2 linked regions of the Homo sapiens genome follow. The protein of the gene in region 1 interacts with the protein of each later gene in a pairwise test. Each region holds a gene or a part of one and is shown on either strand. Other genes may lie near its edges.

Region 1 (3,160 bases):
TTCCATCTTTGTCTTCTGATTATCTGCTGAATGCAGTGGTAGGACAGCCACTATCACATCAAAACTCCCATTCTCCAAATGCACAGTCTCCTCAGTCTCCTTTTCCGTCTGCCCCTGGGAGGAAGGCACAAGCCCCACTCTGAGATGTGCAGCTGCTTTTTTTTTTTGAGACGGAGTCTTGCTCTGTTGCCCAGGCTGGAGTGCAGTGGCACAATCTCAGCTCACTGCAACCTCCACCTCCCAGGTTCAAGCAATTCTCCTGCCTCAGCCTCCCGAGTAGCTGGGATTACAGGTGCCCGCCACCACGCCTGGCTAATTTTTCTATTTTTAGTAGAGACGGGGTTTCACCATGTTGGCCAGGTTGGTCTCGAACTCCTGACCTCAAGTGATCTGTCCACCTCAGCCTCCCAAAGTGCTGGGATTACAGGCATGAGCCACCACGCTCGGCTGAGTGGCTGCTCTCTCTTGTTTTTCTCGGCTCCCCTTGCCCCAGGGTTCCCAAGGATCTGTGTCAACAGCCCCTCACTGTATAGGAAGAAGTAACAAAGCTGCCTGGAAAGCCTGAACTGCTCCATATGGTTGGCTAATTTTTAAAAACCCTTCCCTTCAGGGTCTCTGCCGAGAACAGAAATAGTCATTACTCTAAAGGAGGAAGCAACTATTTCACATTTGACTTGCTCCCAAAGAACTCCATAATCTCAATGTCTTGACCTAACCAAAAAGAAAATGTGGAGAAGACAAATGAATGTTGATCAAATGTGGTATGGACTTTGGGTCAAATTTTACACAAATTTAGGCCAGGTGCAGTGGCTTATGCCTGTAATCCCAGCACTTTGGGAGGTTGAGGTGGGTGGATTGCTTGAGCCCAGGAGTTTGAGACCAGCCTGGGCAACATGGCGAAACACCGTCTCTACTAAAAATACAAAAATTAGCCAGTCATGGTGGCGTGCGCCTGTAATCCCAGCTGCTAGGGAGGCTAAGGCCACAGAATCGCTTGAAGCCAGGAGGCAGAGGTTGTAATGAGTCAAGACTGTACCACTGCACTGCAGCCTGGGCAACAGAGCAAGACTCTGTCTCGAATTAAAAAAAAAAAAAAAAAGGCCGGGTGCGGTGGCCCACACCTGTAATCCCAACACTTTGGAAGTCCAAGGTGGGTGTATCACGAGCTCAGGAGATCGAGACCATCCTGGCCAACGTGGTGAAACCCTGTCCCTACCAAAAAATACAAAAATTAGCTTGGCGTGGTGGCGCGTGCCTGTAATCCCAGCTACTTGGGAGGCTGAGGCAGGAGAACCACTTGAACCCGGGAGTCGAGGGTTGCACTGAGCCGAGATCACGCCATTGCACTCCAGCCTGGTGACAGAGCGGGACTCTGTCTCAAAACAAAAAAACAACAAAAAAATTACCCCCAAACCACACCATTTTCCTATATATTTTTTTTTTTTTGAGTGTTTCACTTTTGCTGCCCAGGCTGGAGTGCAATGGCGTGATATTGGCTCACCGCAACCTCTGCCTCCTGGGTTCAAGTGATTCTCCTGCCTCAGCCTCCCAAGTAGCTGGGATTACAGGCACGCACCACCACGCCCAGTTAATTTTGTATTTTTAGTAGAGACGGGGTTTCCCCATGTTGGTCAGGCTGGTCTCAAGCTCCCGACCTCAGGTGATCCGCCCGCCTTGGCCTCCCAAATTACGGGCAGAGGCACTGCGCCCAGCCACATTTCCCTATTTTTAAGACAATATAGTATCTGGGAACAAATGAAATGTGGCAGAGTTTTTTGTTTTTTTTTTGAGACAGTCTTGCTCTGTCGCCCAGGCTGGGTGCAGTGGTGTGATCTCGGCTCACTGCAACCATCACCTCCTGGGTTCAAGCAATTCTTGTGCTTCAGCCTCCCGAGTAGCTGGGATTACAGGCATGCACTACTACACCTGGCTAATTTTTGTATTTTTGGTAGAGATGGGGTTTCGCTTTGTTGGCCAGGCTGGTCTCAAACTCCTGGCATCATGTGATCCACCCGCCTCAGCCTCCCAAGTGTTGGGATTACAGGCGTGAGCCACCATGCACTAATTTTTCTATTTTTTGTAGAGACGGGGGTTCGCCATGTTGCCCAGGCTGGTCTCGAACTCCTGAACTCAAGCAATGTGCCCAGAGAATTGTAACATTTATAACTGTTACAAACTTAACCCACACATGAGATATAGAAAACATTCTATTACCATCACAGAATGTTTAGACTACAATTTGTACACCAAGAGTCTACAAATAAATAATTCACAACCTGTTTGATTCCAGAAGTTCAGAGTTTGGCAAGGAGGGGCTGAAATTCCATTTTAGGGCCGGGAGCGGTGGCTCACGCCTGTAATCCCAGCACACTGAGAGGCTGAGGTGAGCGGATCATGAGGTCAGGAGATCGAGACACCATCCTGCCTAACATTGTGAAACCCCGTCTCTACTAAAAATACAAAAAATTAGCCAGGTGTGGTGGTGCATGCCTGTAGTTCCAGCTACCTGGGAGGCTGAGGCAGGAGGACTGTCTGAGCCCAGGAGGTTGACGGTATAGTGAGCTGTGATTGTGCCACTGCACTCTAGCCTGGGCGACGGAGCAAGACCCTGTCTCAAAACAAAACAAAAGGCTGGCACATAGTAGGTGCTGCTTAACTAATGTTGAATAAATAAAGATACTTCTAGCAAGGGGTTGGCAAACTTTCTCTGTAAAAGGCAGGCAGTATTTTTAGGTTTTGTGGGCCATACAGTCTTTGTCACAACTACTCAATTCTGCTGTTTTGGTGTGAAAGTAACTATAGATAATATAGAAACAAATGGTTGTGGCTGTGTTCCAATAAAGGTTTATTCATAAAAAGGGGCAGTGGGCCAAATGTGGCCCTCAGGTTAGAGTTTGCCAACCCCTGGTATAGAATTTGGAGGAAAAAAAAAGAAACTAATATTTATACAAAAGCTAACATTAAGCACTGCTCTCGAATTTAAAAATTACATGCTGATTTCATTTTATTTTCTCCTCACAGCAATCTGGATAGCAAGGTTGGTATTATCCCTATGAGAAAACTAAGTTAAATATTAAAAGCTCCGTAATTTACCTTAATTTCATAGTTTTTGAAGAAGACATTGGCCTTGAAGTAATAGATGGCTTCATCCACAATATCT
Region 2 (2,988 bases), on another chromosome or scaffold:
AGGCTCAGTGACTGACCAAATAGTCTGCTGCAGGAACTTGCAACCTGGGGCTGGGCCTAGGCCAGGTCTGCTGGACAATATCAGACCTTAATGGACATCCCAAGGTGGCCCTGGCCCCACAGCCAACCATAGCCACCAACAATTTGTCATTATTTTGGCTCAGAAAGCAATGTCACAATGAAAAAAAACCCTTAGAGCTAACATGCCTGTATTAGAAGATGCCTCATTTCCAGGCCTTCCTTTTATGAGTCTATTTATGAACCATCTTTTGTGCTGTGTACATTCTGGGTTTCCAAGCAGGATCAAAAACACAACTGAACTGAGTCATCACCACAAGGTAAAATTTGCCTCATAGTATTTGAAGTTAACTGAAAACACATTTGACATGAAAAAAACAAAGACTGCAACAACCTAATCCTTCAGTTTCTGTTTAATGCACTCACTTGCCATTACTATATTTTAGACCTTACCCTTCATGGAAGGGGCCTGGCAGGCTTCGGAGAAGACAGGGCTGGGTTTACATTTCTGTCACACAATTTACTAACGATGTGATTTCTCTGAGCCTTGGTTTCTCCATCCGGTGATAAAAATATTTACCTTCAGAGGTTATAATGAGGATCAGCAGTAACGCGCGTAAAGCGCTTAGCATAGAACCTGGTGGACAGCAGGCTCTCGGATGTATTTGATAAAGCGTGGTCATACACTGTGAAGCATATAACCACGCCAGCATGTGCACATCATCATCGTAAAGTTTCCAATCCTCAAAGAAAAAAAAAAGACATTCCAACTTTGAACTGTAAGATATACTCACATGAAAGCTTGTTGTAGGTTCCTGGCACTCAATTTTAGGGTCTGCCCCCACTGCCAAATCCAGAAAGAATCAGGCTCTCAAGTTGAAGCTTAGGCCTAGGCAGATGACAGAACATTATGAGGAGGTGTCAGGCTGCTGTGGATCATGACTGTTAGACCAGGTGGCACCTAGCAAACAAAGGGCCAACGGAGGAGAGTAGATACTTGGATCAGAGACTATGAGTGGGATAGAATGAATGGATGGGGGTGCCGGGACTCGACCAGATGGCTAGGGATGGGGAGCAGGACATGACCCCACTGGAGATGGCAGGGTAGGCTCTGCTCTCAGCACCTTTGCACTGGCATATCTAAATAATTCAAGTCAGGGCTCAAACGCCTACCCTGCAGAACCATGCAGAGTGTAAACAAATGAAGATGGCTGCATGTACAGCGGAGGGGTGTGGGTAGGGGGCACTTGTGGCTAAGCAGAGAGCCCTGTACCCCTTCAGAGGGGCACCTGCCACCCAGCCTCAGCTAATGCTTGTCTTGTGAGAGTCAGTGCAAATGTGGGAGATCTGACTTTTCAGAAGTCTCCAATCTGGATTATAAAATCACTCGATTTTTAGGTCTTGGCAACAGATTGAAATTTCTTAAAATGCTGCAAAGGACAGACTAAAGCAACCCAATGGCCATCAGGTTGTAACCTGTGCCCTGAGTGGCCAGAGCAACCAAACAAAATGCCCGCTAGCTCAGCAGCAGCAATGCCACAGACTTCATACCCAGTGGACGGCAGGTGCTCAGCCCACCTGCCACATGCAGTTGTGTCTAGGCAAGGGACACTGCTTGGCATTTTAGTGCTGGACCTACTTGTATGTTTCTTACACTCTCTATGTAAGTGGTGTGGATAGACAGTCTGGCCAAAAAGCAAGGCATCACTCCTTGCTTCCTCTTGTCTATGTTCTTTGTTCTCATTGACTGGTTTCAGCCAAGTGTACACCATTCCCCCTACCTGGCTTCTCACAGCCGGTCATTTTCACTCTTTTTGAAAAGCGTTCCTTGTGGAGCTGTACTCGTGGGCTGTAATCAGCCCCTGGGGCCCTCTCCCATCCCATCACTACCCTGACTTGACCCTTTATAAAGAACTCCCCAGGCAACCTCAGTCACTCTTAAAATATCTCGGAGATAATCCAGTCCCTGGTCCTGCCCTGACAGCTGGGCAAACAGAGGCCCAGAGAAGACAAGTGAGGTGCCCAGGGTCACAGAGCTAATCAGAGGCAGCGCCATCAGGACACCTGCCTACCAGCGGGGATTCCTTCTGTCACCGAGGCCTCACAGAAGAGTCCTCTGCCCTTATTTTGAGCACCTGGTGACTTTGCTGTATAAGAGGTCACCGAATATCATGGAGGGCGAGTCATGCCAGCTGGTTATAGGATCTGAAAAAACTGAATTTGTCACTCTTCATCAGAAAAAGAAGTACTCACAAAATACTGTCACAGGAACCCCACTTGGGTTGCTTTAACTGCCCCCGATTCGGCATCCTCCGAGGTGAATTAGTGTGGTTTTAATTTAATGAAGTCTTCTAAGAAACTCCAGGGCAAATGCCACGAGGCGCTAAAGATCAGACTTTAGTATCACGCTCTCCTTTTGGCAGTCCATGGCCTGCTTCTGAAGGCATCTTAAAATATATTATGGATAAGGGAAGTATGAATAAATAAATGAAGCCTGCTTTCAAGCAGGAGGTTGATTCTCTGGTGCTTCTAATAAGCTTTAACCGACCAGATTTTCACTGTTTGGTTTTTGTTTTTGTTTTTTTGAGACGGAATCTCGCTCTGTCACCCAGGCTGGAGTGCAGTGGCGTGATCTCCACTCACTGCAACCTCCACCTCCCGGATTCAAGCGATTCTCCTCTTTCAGCCTCCCAGGTAGCTGGGAGGTGCCCACCACCACACCTGGTGAATTTTTGTATTTTTTAGTAGAGACAGGGTTTCACCATGTTGGCCAGTCTGGTCTCCAATTCCTGGCCTCAAGTGATCCACCCACCTCGGCTTCCCAAAGTGCTGGGATTAGAGGCATGAGCCACCACGCCCAGCCGATTTTCACTGTTGGAAGGGTCTCTTGCCCTATCTCCCTCCAGCCCCGGCAGTTCATAATACACCTTGCACCTTGTTTCTCAGAACTTCCACACACCTAGAACCTCTT

Evidence for each region.
Region 2: the proteins of ARPC3 (region 1) and DUSP29 interact in binary tests that used the Homo sapiens proteins (3 or more experiments, as listed by UniProt).

Annotation. Positions count from the first base shown.
Region 1 is NC_000012.12:110,437,219-110,440,378, forward strand, and holds part of ARPC3 (actin-related protein 2/3 complex subunit 3), read right to left. Parts: coding exon 3,094-3,160; intron 1-3,093. UniProt on the Homo sapiens protein: Component of the Arp2/3 complex, a multiprotein complex that mediates actin polymerization upon stimulation by nucleation-promoting factor (NPF).
Region 2 is NC_000010.11:75,039,790-75,042,777, reverse strand, and holds part of DUSP29 (dual specificity phosphatase 29), read left to right. Parts: intron 1-2,988. UniProt on the Homo sapiens protein: Dual specificity phosphatase able to dephosphorylate phosphotyrosine, phosphoserine and phosphothreonine residues within the same substrate, with a preference for phosphotyrosine as a substrate. Involved in the modulation of intracellular signaling cascades.